Linked DNA regions of Homo sapiens: region 2 is linked to region 1. The links come from fine-mapping of genetic effects on gene expression. A gene starts in region 1. The other region holds a variant in brackets. All regions are shown on one strand. Distances are from middle to middle.

Region 1 (9,420 bases):
CCGTGCTTTATTGGGGAGTATTTGCTATTTAGTAGTCCCTTTTCTTTCCAGATTGTAGCATGAGCATGAAACATAAGGAACGCATATTTAGAATCTGGATAGATGTTAAGCTTTTTCCTTTGTCTCAACATTAGTGCTCAGGTAAGAACAATGATTTCAGTATTTTGTGCTGATGTGCCAGGGGGCAGTGGCTGGGCTTCAATAATGGTGTTGTGATTTACCATTGCATATCCAACTCAGCACTCCCCATTTGACACAAAACTACTGCCATCTGTGAACCAGTTATCTTCAGAATCTGGGAGAGGCTAATCTTTTAAATTAGGCCAGCTAATATATGTGTGTACAATGACCTGCTCACAGGAATCATCAGTTATTGGGCCTGTGGGTAGCAATGAAGCTGGATTCAAGGTGTTACAAGTTTTAAGGGTTACATCTGGATTGTCTAGCAGCATGGCCTGGCATATGTTTAACCTTTCCTCCATCATCCACATGTGTCCTTTTATCTCTAAGACTGGCTTTACCTGATGGGGGGTTAGAACTTCCAGTGGTTGGCCCAGGGTGATTTTAGTGGCTTCCTCCACAAACATAGCAGTGGCTATTGCCTGCAGGAAACTTGGTCATCTCGAGGCTGCTCCATCCAACTTCCTTGAAAAGCAGGCAGTTGGTCTGGGTTCTGATCCTAATTTCTAGGCTAGCACTCCCACAGCTACGCCCTTCTCAGCTACATACAAGAAGGGCTTAGTTATGTCTGGGATGCCAAGAGCAGGAGCCTGGTAAGGGCCTATTTTAGCTTGGTGAAGGCTTCTCATTTCTGGGGTCAATTCCGTTAGCTCATTTTCAGGCCTCCTTGTTGCTTCATATACGAGCTTTGCTACAAGCCCCAAATTTGGTACCAATATTCTGCAAAACCCAGCCATTCCCCAGAAAGAACAAAGCTGCGCTTGGTGGCTGTGGGGCAACCACATATGGCTTGCACTCATTCTGGGGATATTTGTCGGGTTCCCGGTGTTAAGACATACCCTAAATATTGGATCCATTGGAGGGTAATCTGAGCCTTCTTTTTGGACACTTCACATCCTCTGTCAGCCAGGAAATTCAACGTTTTTATAGTATTTTGGTCAGAAGCCTCCTGGGTTGGGCTACACACAAGAAGTTCAACCACATACTGGAATATACTTCCATTCTCCAATTGCAGATCCCTCAGATCCCTCTCTACAGATCAGGCTAAGAAATCAGGGCTATCCTGAAAGCCCTGAGGGAGTACTGTCCAAATGTATTGTTTTTTTTTTTTCTGGTATTAGGATTTTCCCATTCAAAGGCAAAAAGGTATTGGGATTCTGGGGCCAGAGGAATAGAGATGAAAGCATCTTTTAGGTCTAGGAGAAACATTTTGCATCCCCTGGCACCTAAGCCAGGAGGGTATATGGATCCACCACCAATGGGTGGACGGGGATAACAGTGTGATAAATTATTCTGAAATCCTGTACTAGCAGGTATTCCCTCAAGGGCTTTAGAATGGTTAAGATGGGGGTGTTTCAGGGAGAATTGCAGGTTTTTAAGAGCTCATGGGTAAGCAATATCTCAACTATGGATGCCAGGCCTTTTCTTGCTTCCAGCTTAAATGGGTATTGTTTTCAATTGGGGCAATAGCTGGGGTCTTTAAACTGGTATTTTGACTGGCACTGCTGTTTTAGCTTTCCCTGGTGATATGGTTTGGCTGTGTCTCCACCCAAATCTCATCTTGAATTCCCACATGTTATAGGAGACACCCAGTGGGAGGTAATTGAATCATAGGGGAAGGTCTTTCCCTTGCTGTTCTCATGATCATGAACAAGCCTCACAAGATCTGAGAGTTTTATAAGAGGGAGTTTGCCTGCACAACCTCTCTCTTTGCCTACTACCATCCACGTAGGATGTGACTTGCTCCTCCCTTGCCTTCCACCATGATTGGAGGCCTCCCCAGCTATATGGAACTGCAAGTCCATTAAATTTCTTTCTTTTGTAAATCATCCAGTCTCGAGTTTGTCCTTATCAGCAGTGTGAAAATGGACTAATACACCTGGCTTCCCAGCATAACATGCTAGCAGGTTAACCTGTTTATTAATGTGGTCTGGGATATTGTCTGTATTTTTGACTATTAGCAATTTTACTGGGTAATGCTTAAATTTGTAGTAGTGCCCCTATTTTAATGATAATATCGCTTCCCAACAGGTGGACAAGGCAGCTTGGAACTACTAAAGATTTATGTTGGAACATTTGTTTCTCAAACTGACAAAGGAGAAGTAAAGAATCTCGTTTGTGGCTTTCCTTCCATTCCCGGAACACTCTTAGACTGGGAGGAAAGTTTTCCTGCATAAGCAGTAAGGACAGAGTAATTCGCCCCTGTATTGGAAAAAAAAAACTGAATTTGGGTACCCATGACATCTAGTTACCCAGGGCTCTGCAATAGTAATTATGATGTTCCTGGACAGGGGCAGTGAGGAAGACTCTAGGCCCCTTCAGTCTTCATCTAATTCCTCCTTTCACACTGCTAGACTTTTGCCTAACTGAGCCCCTTGGTGGGAGCGGGTGCAGTCAATCCTCTAGTGCCAGAGACCCCTCTTAGTACATTAGACGTCTCTGACCTTAGATTGGTGCCACCACCACTTTGGAATGATTCCAACCACCACTGATGACCCACTGTGAGTTTTCCCTCTTGTCCCTGGATGAAGGTCTCTACTTCTAGAATTAACTTTCAGACAAACCTTTGGATTTTTTTTCCTATCACACTTAAAACAATTCTTTAACTTTCTAAATTTGGACAAGATTAAATTGTACATAGATTCCCTTTCATGAATCCCCTCCATGAGTTACACAGACCACAATATGCCCAAACTCTGTGACTTATCCTTAGCCAGTCAAGTAGGGGGACGGAAGAATTTAACATAAGGAAAGAAGGCTTAAGCCACCTGAAACATGTGTGAATTTTCCCTGGACAGGCTGCCACTGCCAATTGCATCACTCATAGGCATCAGGGACTACAACTGGAAAAGACAGAAAAGAGTCCTTCCCCTTTCTGGGCAAGGCAGCTATCCCCATTCACTCCTGGGCCTTCAGTTAACACCAGAGAGTGGCCCCAGTTGCCTTCAGTTACCAAGGAGCTACTAGGAAATGGCCACTGAAAGACTGAAAAAGAAAAGAACTCAGGTTCCTCACCTGAACCAGGTGGTGGCAGTCAGGTGCTTCCACATGGACCTTTTAGTTTCACCAGAGAGTGGCCCTGGCCAGAAACCTGCAGTTGCCTCCATGCTTAGGCACTGTCCATCAAGGATCCCAGCTTGGAAAGGAAAAGGGAGAGAGAGAAAGAGGAAAAAGAAAAATACAAATCCCAAACTTTGGGCTTACCTTCTGGCTGGCTCACCAAAATATGTTACCAATTGAGGGTAGTTGTCCAGGTTCTTGGTGTTTTGAACGAAGAATTGGACAGAACACACAAACAAGGCATGGAAAGCAGAGATTTATTTTAAATGAAAGTATACTCCACAGAAGGAAAACAGACTCAGTCAAGGGGTTCAAGAGCATCAGCTACAGAATTTTCTGGGGCTTAAATACCCTCTAGAGGGTTCCCATTGGCCTATGCCCAGTCTGATTGGTTGTGGAAGGAGACCAATCAGAGTGAAAAGTAGGCCCTCAACCAGTCTGATTGGTTGAGGGAGGGGCTCTATCAGAGGTTCTTTCATTTTTCAACTGCCACCCAAAGAAAGGAGGGTTGCAACTGCCACGCAGCAACTGCCACGCAGAAAAAAGAGGGGTTGAAAATGGAGTCGCCTCTGATATCAGTCAGCATGAATCAGCCTTAGGTCCCCTGTTTCCAGACCCTATTCTCCTACCTAACATTGTTTCTACAGAATTCTATTTTTATTTCATTCACACTAAAAGGGCAGAATCTCTTAAACCAAAACCATCATCATGTCACAAACCAGACTATTTTCCAACCTTCATTTCAAAATGACCACTATCACCTTTTCTCACTCTTAGTCGGGCAGTAGAATAGGGTCCGGAGGCAGGGAACCTAAGGCCCATTCACGCTGACTTCCTAGAACTAAATCAAAAGGAAAACTCCAACTTTCCAAGCCCAAGTAACAAAAAGACCAGAGGCTATTCCCTTTGCAACCCCCTGCCCAACCTTCTAGGCCCTTGGTATCTGGGCCTAGTCTTCATTTCCATAGGAGTACAACTTTGTAACTTAACTTTAGCCTCTGATTGGTTGCAGGCTACTCCTTAATTTACAGAGGGTGTAAACCAAGTAACCAATGGGAAATCTCTAGCGGATATTTAAACTCCAGAAAATCCTGTAACCAGGGCTCTTGAGCCACTGGCTGGAGGCCATTCCCACTCTGTGGAGTGTACAGTCATTTCAATCTCTGCTTTCCTTGCTTCATTCTTTCCTTGCTTTCTTTGTGCGTTTTGTCCAATTCTTTGTTAAAAAAACCAAGAACCTGGATGACTTGTAGTCAAGACCCTCCATGGGTAACATTGGGACTATACAAAAGCCTTAGAAATCGTGGAATGATTTTTCAACCACATTATCTGATTCTAATGATGAACAGACCTGTAGACCGGTCTGAATCTTGGGATTTGCCTATCAAAAAACTCGGCTTTCCCTACTGCACAGGTCTTCAGAAGCGCATGTCTAACAAGGCTAATATTCCATCATCGGGATCAAATTGCTCACCGGATAGTAAAAAGACACTACAGAATTTCAGGGGTTCTCTGCCAATGAGAACTTCTGAATTATGTAGAACGGATCAGCTACTAAGCAGTGTTCTATCTTCCTACTCTTCTAATCGATTGTCATCCCTTAAAGCGCTGCTAATTCTAGAAAACAATCTATAACCTGTTAGAATCAGCGCAAGCTGGTGATGACTACAAGTCCCATGATGCAAAGTATGAGCACGGACCAATGTTGGTCGCAGTTCCTTCTGGGAATTGTAGTCTTCTCCTGTTTGGCAAACTAGGTATTGTAGCCTCCATTTCTCAGAAGTTCAGTTGGAAAACTAAAGATAGTGCAGAGAATGTCGATTTCCTGCCACAAGATTACATTTATCTTCGCTACCTGAGCGCCCAGCCGATCAACTCCAGTCGCTCCTCCGGTGGGCGGGCGCCCATGCCGTGACATCACTTCCGGCAGAGATGTGTGTGTGACGCTCTCTCTCTCTCTCTCTCGCTCTCGCTCTCTCCCTCGCTCGTTTTCTTTCTCTTTCTCTCTCTCTCTCTCTCTCTCTCTCTCTCTCTCTCTCTCTCTCTCTCTCTCTCTCTGTCTCTCGCTCTTGCCCTCTCTCTCTCTCTTTCTCTCTGTCTCTGTCTCTCTCTCTCTCTCTCTCTCTCTCTCTCTCTCTCTCTCCCTCCCTCCCTCCCTCCCTCCCTCTCTCTCTCTCTCTCTCCCCCCCCCCCCCCCCCCGCCCAGTTCGGCCCCTCCTTCCACACAGCAGGGATCTTGGGCCCGGGCAGAGACTGGCTGAGGCGGGGAGCAGCTGCTTTTGGGGCGGGGGTGTCACGTGAGGCTTCTCGCTGCTGAGGGAGGAGGCGAAAAGCTGCGGTTAAGGAGAGTCCGGTTTAACCGTCACCGGGAAGCGCGCTCGTTCGGGATCGCCGAGGGGGCTGAGGTAAAGACTGGGTCATTACCTCAGGACAGGCGGTCGCTGTCCCGGGTTCTCGTACGGGTGACACCTGCAACCTTGATGTCTGGCGGGCGGCAAGGGGCTCCGCGGGAGAGTGGAGAGGCGCCGCAGGAAGCCCAGCCACCTTCAGGCCACCGCCGACCCCACTGTGCGTCTGGGAGGCGCTGGGCGCGCACCGGTCAGCGGAGGCGGGAGAGTCTGTGATCCCAGGGAGCTGCGGGTCTCGCCGCCTGCAGTGCGGAAGACCCGTGACCGGCGCAGACCCCGGCCTTACCTTCCGAGGGTCGAACTGTGCCTGGTATTTGCCTCTTTCCTCCCGCCCACGGGGTTGCTCAGAGTCGGGCCACCTCACCTGAGGTTTTCCAGAGTGAGAATGAACTGAGCGTCCTGGGAGCAACTCCGCATCAGGGTAGAGGCGAAGACGCTCCTAATGAGCACAGCACGTTTTTTTGTTTGTTTGTTTGCTTGTTTTGTTTTTTTAACGCTTGGGTAGCGCTCACATCTTCGGACGTCAGTGGTTGTGTTGATATGTATTGATATGCGACCTCCCCCCAGCCAGGCGGCCTCAGGTAGTAGAGTGGCAAAGGCCAGGTAGATCCCTCGGACCTTGAGAAGGTTGAGATTTCAGACTTACTTGTTTTTGGGGAGGCCGTCAGGCGGAACCGAGGAGCGGTGAATCAGCAGCTAAAGTTTCATGAATCTTTGATAATGGGGAAATGTTGCCGAGAGCCACTTGAGTTAAAAATCTTTTTTTTTTTTTTTTTTGAGACGGAGTTTTCCTCTTGTAGCCCAGGCTGGAGTGCAATGGCACGATCTCGGCAAACTGCAACCTCCGCCTCCCGGGTTCAAGCGATTCTCCTGCCTCAGCCTCCCAAGTAGCTGGGATTATAGGCCTGCGCCACCATGCCCGGCTAATTTTTGTATTTTTAGTAGAGACGGGGTTTCACCATGTTGGCCAGGCTAGCCTCGAACTCCTGACCTCAGGCGATCCACCCGCTTCATCCTCCCAAAGTGCTGGGATTACAGGCGTGAGCCACAGCGCCCAGCCCAGAGTTAAAAATCTTATTTCAGCATCTTTCCAAGTCCAGGTGACTCATTTCTTACCTTTCCCACCAGTAGAGTTTCGTATGAAAAGTTGGGCAGTTATTGTTGTGTGTAGTCTTGTCATTTTGTTGGTCTGTAGTTGTTACAGTTTCTTATGAGTTTATTATTTAACAAAGTAATAGTAAACCATTTCTTCTTTGTGTTATGATACTATTCTGACACAAGATATACTGGTCCGTTTGATAACAGATTCTTGAGTGTAAGTTATAAAGATTTAAATACCCTCAGTTTATCGTAGAGCAGAATTAGTGATGACCTGTAAGCTGTGAAGAACGGTTACAATTTTCACTATTTAATTTTGTTGCATATAAGTTCAGTGTTCACTGGGTTTTATTTGAGTAACTTGACCAAGTGTGTATTTTTAATCCTGGGTTCTATAGAATTATACTATGTAGCATCAAAGCATCTGGTTCATTGTTACTACTCTGTGTAAATCTTTATAGTTTCACTAATTAAATTGAAAGGTAATGTGAATAGATTTCCTCCCTTTCTGATTAAATCCAGAGGTAATGTAAATAGTTTTCTTCCTTTTCTTTTTTCTCTCTTGTACTGAATGTAGTACTGTCAAGATGATAAGCATGGAATAAAGCTTCAGAAGGGTCTTTACCAATCTTTCTCCTACCAACTTTTACATACATGAAATCAGGTTAAAATGAACTTTACAGAAATACTTCACAAGGGAATAAAGTAGAGGAAAAAGGGATAACATGTAACATGGAGTCAAGGAAAAAGAGTGTGAAGTAGTTTTGCTCTCTCTATCTTGCAAATAGGAGTCCTTAAAGACAACTGGGAGAAGGGGTTTGAGGTATGTTTTCATTCCAAATAAAATAATAGTGTCATAAAATTGAAAAGAATACTTTTCTTTTGAATCCTGCTGCACATTAAAGACTAACCTTTTAATATGTCCTTTTCATTTTTAGATAGTGAATTCCTAAGAAGAAAATAATGGATTGCATATTAGTTGTTCTCTAAGTGGACTCAACAGTGTGCAAGCTTGTTGGAAAAGCCAAAAGAAGATGGCAACTCCTTATGTCCCAGTTCCTATGCCCATAGGAAACTCTGCTTCCAGTTTTACAACAAACAGAAATCAAAGAAGTTCTTCTTTTGGCAGTGTCTCAACAAGCTCAAATTCTTCTAAGGGCCAGTTAGAAGACTCAAATATGGGTAATTTTAAACAGACAAGTGTTCCTGATCAAATGGATAATACTTCATCTGTCTGTAGCAGTCCCCTCATTAGGACTAAATTTACAGGTACAGCTTCTTCCATTGAGTATTCTACTAGACCAAGAGACACTGAAGAACAAAATCCGGAAACAGTGAATTGGGAAGATAGACCATCTACACCTACTATACTGGGTTATGAAGTGATGGAAGAAAGAGCTAAATTTACTGTAAGTATTGACTTCTGCTGTATAACACTACAAAGTGAAAGATTGGCTAATCTCTGTGTTCAAACCAGTGTTAAATTAATGTAAACTTGTACTTATAATTTCTTGAATATGAAATTCTAATGGTTTTTACACCACTGAATTCTATCATGTTGTAGTAAACTTTTGCTTTACCTTAATAAATTTTCACAAACCAGACACACCTATGTAACTATTAATAGCACATAAATCAAGGAAAAGAACGTTACTAGAATCTTAAATGCTCTAGGTTCTCTGCCAGTCAGGACCCATTCACCCAATACTTTTGTATAGCCTAGATTAATTTTGCCTATTTTTGTACTTTATCTAAATGGAATTATATACTCTTTTTGCATCTGGTCTCTTTTCTTTAGCCTTGCCAAATTACATGCCCAGCTTTAAAAGATATTGGTGAACAGTGTTTCAGAATGGTTGTACTGATTTATACTCCTAAAAGCAGCATATAAGAGTTCCAGTTGATCCATAGCTTCCTAACATGTGATATTTTAACATTTTTATCATTTCAGCTGTTCTCATGGGTACAGAGTAATATCACATTGGTTGTGGTTTTAATTTGAATTTTCTTAATGACTAATTGAATTTAAAATTTTTTTGGGCTGTTTGGATATTCTCTTGTGAAATATCTGTGCATGATTTTTGTTCATTTTTCTTTTGGGAAGTCTCCCTTTTGATTTGTAGTTTTCTGTGCACTTTGGATATAATTTTTTTTTCAGATACATGTATTATGACTATCCTCTCACTCTGTGGTTTGCCTTTTCAATTCCTTAATAATACATTTGATAAACAAAAGTTCTTAATTTTAATTTGGCTTGATTTATTACTTTTTTTAATGGCTAGCACTTTTTGAAATCTTTGCCTACTCCAAGGCTACAAAGATACTGTCCTATGTTTTCTTCTAAAATCTTTATTGTTGGACCTTTCACATTTAGATTCGTAAACCACCAGAATTGATTTTTGTCCATGGTGTGAGGTGAGGGTCAAGTCTTTTTTTTTTTTTTTTTCCAGATGGGACCAATTAATCAGGCTTTTATTTGAAAGACCACTCTCTCTCCTCTTCATTTTCAGTGTTGTCTGTGTCATAAATCATGTGACCATAAATGCATGGGTCTGCTTCTGTGTTCTATTTTTTCATCCTTTACTAATTTCACACTGTCTTAATTAATAAAGTCTTATAATAGGTCTTGATATGTAGCAGTGTATGTACTTTAGCTTTTTTCTTCAGGATGGCC
Region 2 (9,420 bases), 34 kb after region 1:
TATAATGTTTTGTGTGAACATATGGCTTTATTTCTCATGGACTGAGAAATTCTACTTCCCTAAGAGTAGAAGTGTTTGATCATGTAACAAGTTTAACTTTTTAAAGAAACCAATAAAGTTTTTGAAAGTTGCTGTATTCTATTCTCACTTGTACTGTACGAGAGTTTTAGTTTCTCTATGTCCTCACAAACATTTGATATTATCTCTCTTTTGGATTATAGCCATTCTCTTGGATAGGTAGTGATATTTCATTATAGCTTTAATTTTCATGTTTCTAATGATTTTTTGATATTGATATCATGCCACATGCTTTTTAGCCATTCATGTTTTCTTCAATGAAATGTCTGTTCACGTCTTGCCCATTTTTTAAAAAACCTGGGCTGTTTATCTTATTCAGTTATAAAATCTTTACTTTAGATATTAATCCTTTATCAGAGATACAATTTGTAGATATTTTCTTGCAGTCTGTAGGTGTCTTTTCATCCTCTTAATGGCATTCTTTGAAGTGCAAAAGTTTTTAATTTTAATGAATTTATTTTATCACTTTTTTAATGGCTTATGCTTTTACTATTGTATTATAAAAACTCTTTGCCTAACCCAACATTACAAATATTTTCTCATATATATATTTTTAATTTTATATTTTAGCTCTTACAGTTAGGTTTATGGTCTATTTTGGGTTAATTTTTTTTAAGGTATTAGGTAAGGGTCTTAAGTTCCTATACCTATCTTAATTTTTTTTTAGTTCGTTTTGTTTAATTATGTTGACACTTCTGTCAGAAATCAAATGACCATGAAAAGAAGGGTTTGTTTCTGGACTCTTAATTCTAGTCTGTTGATCTATTTTCCTGTCCTTGTGCCAGTATGATACTGTCTTGTTTACTGCAGCTCTATTATCATTACTGTTTGCATAGCATATCTTTTCCCATCCTTTTACTTTCAATCTGTTTGTATCTTTCAACCCAAGATCCATCCCTTCTACATAGCGTGTAATTGGGTCTTGATCTGTTATTCTTTCCGACATCTGTCTTTTACATCTGCCATTTTGCAATTTGTTTTCTGTTTCTCTCATCTGTCTCCATCCCATTCCTCCTTTTATCTTGTGTAAAATAATTTTTAGTATGCCATTTTGATTCTTCTGTAGAATTTTTTACTTTTTCTTATTTTTCAGTGACTGCTAAAGGTATTATATTTCAGTGAAATATAAACTTGGCTCCAATATCTCTCCGTTTCCTCCCTCTTTCTTTGTGTTGCTATTGTTATCTATTTTACATATATCTTATAAACCTAACAATACAGTGCAATAATTATTTCTTTATACAGTCTTTTGTGCTCTAAAGAACTTAAGAAATGGGAAAATATATTTCATAGATTATTTTATTTAATCCACGTGTTTACTATTTCTGGCCCTCTTCATTTCTTCCTGGAGGTTGATGTGATCATCTGGTATCACTTCCTTTCAGTCTCATAATCTTCGTTTAGTTTTTCTTGTAAGACGGGTCTGCTAGCAACAAATTCTCACAGTCTTTGTTTAGCTGGAAATGGTCATTTTTGAAAGATAGTTTTACTGACAGATTTTTTTCTTCCAGCACTCTGAATGTGTCATTCCACTGCCTTCTGGCCCCTATTATTTCTGATAAAAAAAAAATCAACCTTTATATTGTTTCCATGTGCATGATGAGCCATTTTGCCCTTGCTGCTTTCAAGATATTCTGTTTGTTTGACTTTCAGCAGTTTGATTATGATGTATTGGGGTGTAGATCTCTTTCTGTTTCTCATGCTTTGGCTTCATTGAGCTTTGTTGACTTGACAGATTAATGTTTTATATCAAACTTTGGAATTTGTTAGCCATTATTTCTTCAAATACTTTTTCACTCCCTTTTTCTCTCCCTTCTCCTTCTTGGACTGTCATTACTTGTATATTTGTATACCCTGTGTTGTGCAAAATGTCTCTGAAGTGCTGTTCATTTTTCTTCAATTGCTTTTTTCTCTGATCTTCAGATTGAAAATTTCTATTGATCTTCAGATTCACAGATTTATATTTCGGTCATATTAAATCTCCTGTTGAGCCCCTCTTGTTAATTTTTCAGTTACTGTGCTTTTCAACTCCAAAATTCTCAATTGCTTATTTTTTAACTGTTCTTTCTCTTTATTGAGATTTTTCTATTTGTTGACTCATTATCATTATCCTTATCATTAATTCAATTTTTTCTAGTTTATTTCATGTACGTAATGGTTGCATTAAAAATCACTGCCTGATATGCCTAACATTTGGGGCCGTTTAGAGATAGCTTCAATTGACTGCCTTTTTTCCTGAGTATGCTTAGATTGACCTTGTTTCTTTGAGTGTTTTGTACATTTATTTGAATACAAGATATTTTAGGTGATACACTGTAGCAACTCTTGATTCTTAATCTCTGTCTCCTATAGTGGTTATTATTATTTTGTCTGTCTGTTTAGTAACTTGCCTGGACTAAATCTGTGAAGTTTGTCTCCTCAGCAATGTGTGGTCACTGATGTCTTTTCTCAGTGTTTTTTTCCTCATTTTATTTTTAAGCCTGGCTTTCTTGTATTTCTGCATAGCTTAATGTTCAGTCAACAGTTGGTCATAAATTTTGCTTATATACCTCAAACTAGTAAGATTTTTACACTCTGGTAATGGATCTGTATATAGTCTAAGGAGTGTATTTAAAGTTAAGGTCATTTTCAAGTATGCTGTAGATTTTAGTTTCTGCTGAATCCTTTCCCATCTCCTATTCTATACACGCATATGGGCTCTGTTGTCCTGTGTGGCTTGGGTCCCAGGATATGTGGAAAGCTTATCAAGGCCCCATAGATATATCGTTTCCCAGAACTCCCTATTAAATCCTGGCTAGATCATTGCTTCTGGGTTTCATTCAGCCTTTCGGCTACCATTTTGTCTCTTTGATTTAGAATCTGTTTAGAAAATTAAGTTCTATTTTAAGTGAACATTGGGCTAAAGAAGCTAAGTGTTTATCACTCCTTTTCCAGCTCAAGGATTCCAGGATTTTTATTCCTTTAAAGTATAGTATTCTTTCTTCTTGCAAGACAGCCTTTAGTTCATTTTTTAATTTTTAAATTAGCCCTTTTACAAAAAAATAATAATTTGAATATCTTTTTAGTGTTCTTAGTTCAAAATATATGCTAGTTAGTATTGTCAAGTATCATAACTTGGCAGGGGAAGAGTGGAAGCTGATTTGAGTTAGGATTTCTCATACACTCTATCGGCATTTAGGGCTGGATAACTTTTTGGTGGCCGAGGCTAGAGCACAGCCTGACGTGTGCATTGAAAATATTTAGCAGCATCCTAGGCCTCTACATATTAGACACCAATAGCATACCCACTCATGACAAGTAAAAATGTCTCCAGACATTACCAAGTGTCTTCTGAGTTTAAAATCGCTCCTGATGTAGAACCACTGATTTAAATAAGTCACCAAGGCAATATTAAGTTTATACACTCAACAGAGTAATATGGAATGTATCTCCTAGACTCTTTCTCTAAAATAAATGCATTTTCCTACAGTTGTATTTGAAAATATATGTTTATTTGAACAGTGAATGAAGAAATTCTGTGTTTGCTCCTCTCCTTCAAGGTAAAATCTACAGTAACCTAATGAGATATATATCTCTTTTGTCTGCAGACTTACTTAAGCAGCCTCTCATTTTAAGAAAAATCCCAAAATGACTTATTAACCCACATTTCTTGGAGTGTAAAATTAAACTTATTCAAAGGATACTCAGTTCGGCAAATCTTTAACCTACTTTTCTCTGTTCCCTATTTAAGGTAGTCATTTCTACCCCTCATATACTTGTACTAAAAGAGGGAATTAAGATTAGGGATATAAATTAGTCTACCTTTTTTTGGGAAAATTCAAATCTATTACTTGTATGGAGATAATATAATTGGAAGAAATGAGGTCTTACTGTATTAACATTAATGAATAGCTTATTAGAAATAAATTATAATTTTTAATATTTTATATGAATTATAAGTACAAACAATTAAAGCAGAATTCTTAAGCCATCTATTCTCTACCTAAATTGTAATATGTAATGAAGCTGTTTTCTTAGAATCACTTGCTAGCAGATTTTCCTGTCCTGATGGAACTGTTTGATCTCTATCCCAGAAGGAAATTTATATCAATATAGCCTTCCAATGACTATTCTAAGGACAGTCTCCATTCCTATATACATTTTTCCTAAGGTACCTCCCTCACTGGGGTGGATGTTAATCTTGGAAGAAACCCAAGGTTTTAAAGGTACTTTCCTAGGAATACAATTGTTTCATTGTTAGATATTCTCCTCTTCAACTTCACTGCATATGCTAAAATTACACCCCAAATTTGTTATATCAGTTTGTACTTTTACCAACAATATGTTTTCCTTTTGCTCTATATCACCACTAATACAAGTATTGTCAATCTTTTAATTTTTGTCAGTCTGATGGGTATAAAATAATATCTTACTGTTATTTTAGCCTAATTTTCTTGATTACCAGCCAGGTCTGGCATCTTCCATAGTAGCTGCACATTCTTTGTCACATTTTCTATGGCTCTTGTTCTTCCCTACACACCAGCACATAAAAATATTTCTCCTAAATTTCCTTCTAATAAGTGTAAACTTTTGCTTTTCACACTCAGGTCTTTTTTTTTTTAAGAGAATTAAATTGTTTATTGATTACACCTAATAATGGATGATACACAAGCTTCATTCCCATCTATAATTTTATCTGGTACCATTACTCAATTTAAATATATTGCATAAGATGTGCCAACAATCATTTTTATAACCAATAATTCCATGATTTTGCTTGGGTAATCCCTTTTAATGGTGAACTTCAGGTCACAACAGTAACTATCAGTTCAACTACACCAAGGTTTCTGAAGACAATGACTTCCCCACCCAAGCAGGTTGTATGTAAATTCCAAATAGTACCTGGCATCACTCTGAAGGAATTCTAACTTCACACTGTTGGGGAAATTTACCAAGATGGCTTCAGAGTAGACTAACTTTACACAGCACATTAAAAAAAAGACATTTATTCAGTATCACAATCAGACTATTACATTTAGCAATCAACAGCCTGGGTGCAAAAAAAAAAAAACTACATTAAAACCCTTCGTTGGAATGCTTTACATTTGCCACAGAACAGAAACTAAAATAACCTGTTATACAATTAGTCAGAAATACAGTCCTCGAGTTTTTTGCCTATGCACATGAGTATTTGTCTAAAACATGTCTTCTTTGTAGCAGCTAGGCCCTGCCACCACTGTGCTTGGCTGACTTCACAAATCTGTTGTTACCTGTAGCTTCCCTGTTACTTCTCTGGCTCTCCTCTCCTGCTGAGCTTTGTTTCCTAATTAAAATCTTCTGCCACTGCCATAGCTACGGCTGCTCCTGGAACCGCCATAGCCACCTTGGTTTCGTGGTTTGGCAAAGTATTGGCCTCCACCACCATGGGGGCCAGAGCTTCTGCCTCCAAAGTTTCCCATCTTCATGGGTCCAAAATTTGAAGACTGATTGTTGTAACTGCCAAAATCATTGTAGCTTCCACCACCTCCAAAGTTGCTTCCATCATTACCAAATCCCTTATAGCCATCCCCACTGCCACCATATCCCCCACCACCA[C/T]AGCTGTCAGCAAAGCCACCATGACCCCTGAAGTTTCCTCCACAACCAAAGTTGTCATTCCCACCGAAAACACCTCCACAACCACCACCAAAGTTTCCAGAACCACTTCGACCTCTTTGCCTGGATGAAGCACTAGCCATCTCTTGCTTTGACAGGTCTTCCTAACTTCACAGTTGTGGCCATTCATGGTATAGTGTTTCTGAATGACCGTCTTATCCATGGAGTCATGGTCGTGAAAGGTTACAAAGGCAAAGCCCCTTTTCTTGCCACTGCCTTGGTCAGTCATGATTTCAATCACTTCCATTTTTCCACACTGTTCAAAATAATCTCTTAGGTGATGTTCTTCAGTGTCTTCTTTAATGCCACCAATAAATATCTTTTTCACAGTTAAGTAGGCAACTGGTCTTTGAGAATCTTCCCTTGAGACAGCTCTCTTTGGTTCCACAACTCTTCCATCCACCTTCTGTGGCCTTGCATTCACGGCTGCATCCACCTCCCCCACAGTGGCATATGTGACAAACCCAAAGCCCCTGGAGCACCTGGTGTTTGGATTTCTCATTACCGCACAGTTCGTGAGGGTTCCCCATTGCTCAAAATGGCTCCTCAGGCTCTCATCAATTGTTTCAAAACTCAACCTTCCAGTGAAAAGCTTCCTCAGCTGTTTGGGCTCTTTAGGAGACTCTGACTTAGACATGACAGCAGGGAGAAGAGAGACTTTAACAATGCTTCTTCGGCGGCATCCACGGGCAGAAAGGAGCAAGCTGACCTCAGATCTTTTAATTGATTTAACTTTTTCTGTATGGATGACCAGTGATCCCAACCTCATTTATTTAAAAGTTCATCCCTACTGCACTAATTAGTAATTCTTCTATGCTAAATAGTTGAGTGTGAACGGGTCTGTTTATGGTCATTCAGTTCTTTTTTTTTTTTTTTTTTTTTTTTTTTTTGAGACAGAGTCTCAAACTGTCACCCAGGCTGGAGTGCAGTGGCGCCATCTTGGCTCACTGCAACGTCTGCCTCCGGGATTCCAGCAATTCTCCTGCCTCAGCCTCCTGAGTAGCTGGGATTACAGGCACGCACCACCACATCCAGCTAATTTTTGTATTTTTAGTAGAGACGGAGTTTCTTCATGTTGGCCAGACTGGTCTTGAACTCCTGACCTCAGGTGATCTGCCCACCTCAGCCTCCCAAAGTGCTGGGATTACAGGCATGAGCCACCATGCCTGGCCACTCAGTTCATTTTTAGTAGTCTCATCCCTCTGCTGGTACTATATTGTGTTAATTACTATAATTAAATAATCTTATTAACTGGCAGAACAAGGGTGCCCTTATTCTTCCAAGTTGGCTATTCACTTTTCCATATGAATTTTAGAACAACTTTGTGAGTTCCATGAAAAAATCCTATTGCCATTTTGTTTGGAATTTTAATACATTTATTTATTAATTTTGAAGAGTATCTTTATAGTATTGAATCTTCCTATTAATAGATCTTTGCATATGGAGGGTTTTTTTTTAAGTTCTTCAATAAAAGTTTACATTTTTTTCATCTAGGGAAAGCCATAGGATTCCTCATCATTTTTGTTGATGAAATAATTGGTATTTTTATTACATTCTAAGTTACTAGTTTTATTATTGATTTTTATATATCTATTTTGTATGTCACATTCTCTTGTTAGTTTATAGATCTGTTTGGATTTTCCATATCGGTAATCATATCCCCTGCAATATTAACAATGTGTTTTTTCCTAATACGTAATATCTTTCATTTCATTTTTCTGTATTATTTTGCTAGATAGATTCTTTGGAGGTTAATTGAAGCCATTATGGTGGGCATCCTTTTCCTTTCATCCTAACTTTAATGAAAATGATCCTGTATTTTGCTGTTGGATATGGAGTTTTCTATAGGCTGGTGGTAGTTGTGAGTTATGTTGATTTGTTTATTGTTTTCGTTGTTGTTTTTAGATTAAAGAAGTTCTATTTCTAGTTTGCTAAGAGGTTGTAGGGATGTGTGTGTGTGTGAATGCTTTCACTTGCATCTGTATAGATGATCATATGGGTTTTTTTTAATCTATTGGTGTGGTAAATTACATTCATAGATTTTCAGTTGATAAAACATTGATTATGAGATTAACGCAAATTCAGCGTATTTTTTTAATTACTGGATTTGAATTGTAATGATTTTATTTAGAATTTTGGCATATGTAACATTTGTTTCTGTTACTGCCCTTTGTTGGGTCTGGCATCAAAATTATACCAGTTTTATAAAATAAGGAATAGTCCCTCTTTTTCTGTTATCCAGAACCATTTGAATAAATGCATATTGGTTGTTCCCTAAATGTTTGTTAGAATTCACCTGTAAAACAATCTGGATTTGATATTTTCTTTAGCTTGTCTTATAGTAGATTTTTAACAACTGATTCTGTTTCTTTGATGTCTGTAGTTTATTCAGATTATTTGGGGAGGTTTCAGTTTTGAGAATCTGTATTTTTCTAGAACTTGACCATTTTGTATAGATTTTAAAATACATTTTTTTTTCTTTTTTTTGAGATAAGAGTCTTGCTCTGTGGCCCAGGCTGGAGTGCAGTGGCGCTATTTCGGCTTGCTGCAAGCTCCGCCTCCCAGGTTCACGCCATTCTCCTGCCTCAGCCTCCCGAGTATCTGGGACTACAGGCCCTCGCCACCACGCCCAGCTAATTTTTTTGTATTTTTTAGTAGAGACGGGGTTTCACTGTGCTAGCCAGGATGGTCTTGGTCTCCTGACCTCGTGATCTGCCCGCCTCAGCCTCCCAAAGTGCTGGGATTATAGGCGTGAGCCACCGCAAAACTGTTGTTCTTAGTAGTATCACATGACTTTTGAAAATCTCTTAACATATCTTTAGTTATATATCCACTTTGAATCTCACTGTTTTTTCCACTAGTCTTTTCTCCTTGGATTTGGTGTATTTTAATAGTCTTCTCAAAGAACCACTTTTTGCCTTTTTGATTCTCTTGATTAAATTCTTTTCCTGTCTCTTAATTCCTTTCTTATACTTGGTTTTAGTATGTTCTTTGACTTCTTTAATTGGATGCTTTCTCAGTTGTTTCTAGTATTATACAGTTCTTTTATATAACAGTCAAATTGCATCTCACAAGTCTTAATATTTTCATTCTCGTTCATATTTTATATTGTTCCTATTATCTTGTTTGCTCCATAAATTTAGAATTCTCTTTAATTTTTCAAGCACTTTTTTCTAATATTATTGACTGTTTTTTAGTCTATTTGCATTTTTTTCAGAGATTATGTTCTGTCTGACACCAATTCTTGGTTATTGTTGACAGTGTTCTGCAGTCTTTGGGATCTGCACATATGTGATAAATTTTCTAAATTTTCCATGTGTGCTTGAAAAGAATATGTATTTCTTAATTGTTAGACTCACAGTTCAATATATGTTCATCATATCAAACTTACTAATTTGTATTGTTAAAATTTTTTTAATCTTAACTCATTTTTTTGTTTAATCCGTTAATTGCCAAGAGTTATGTCAAATTTACCCCTTATGGTGTGGATTTGTTCAATTTCTTCTTGTAATTATGCATTTAAAATATTCCTGGTGAATTATTACTTTTATTATTAGGTAGAGACTCTTTGTGCCTAATAATGTTTATCACCTTGAACTGCATTCTGTCAGATATTAAGAAAACTACAACTTTTGGTAGGGGAGAAAAGGCTAACATTTGTCTGTTGCCTTTAAGTATGTTTCTACTTTTGTATTTTAAATATGGCTGTTT

Alleles and levels. Positions count from the first base shown, and alleles are read on the strand shown. Sizes are in standard deviations (SD) of each study's normalised expression.
With allele C in place of T in region 2, the expression in sun-exposed skin of the gene that starts at base 5,582 in region 1 is lower (moderate effect, 0.63 SD a copy in GTEx).

What was found. PIP is the estimated chance that this variant, and not a neighbour inherited with it, causes the effect. A credible set is the group of variants that fine-mapping cannot tell apart.
Region 2: its variant is the best candidate, but not a certain one, in a credible set for the expression of SNX16 in sun-exposed skin (GTEx, PIP 0.54).

The regions. Positions count from the first base shown.
Region 1 is chr8:81,838,347-81,847,766 of GRCh38, reverse strand. It overlaps SNX16 (sorting nexin 16), which reads left to right and starts at 5,582. Exons shown (of 8, transcript NM_152836.3): 1 at 5,582-5,645; 2 at 7,685-8,155. The coding sequence starts at 7,781. LINC02235 (long intergenic non-protein coding RNA 2235) reads right to left here and starts at 5,148. Exons shown (of 8, transcript NR_170320.1): 1 at 5,096-5,148; 2 at 3,196-3,316. RefSeq lists enhancers at 4,898-5,167, 5,599-5,648, 5,576-6,508 and a silencer at 5,979-6,028.
Region 2 is chr8:81,804,698-81,814,117 of GRCh38, reverse strand. All of the region lies in intron 5 of SNX16 (sorting nexin 16), which reads left to right. It also overlaps the pseudogene HNRNPA1P36. Among named protein-coding and RNA genes, the nearest start is that of SNX16, 33 kb to the left of the region's middle. The variant C/T (reference allele first, on the strand shown) is at 5,653.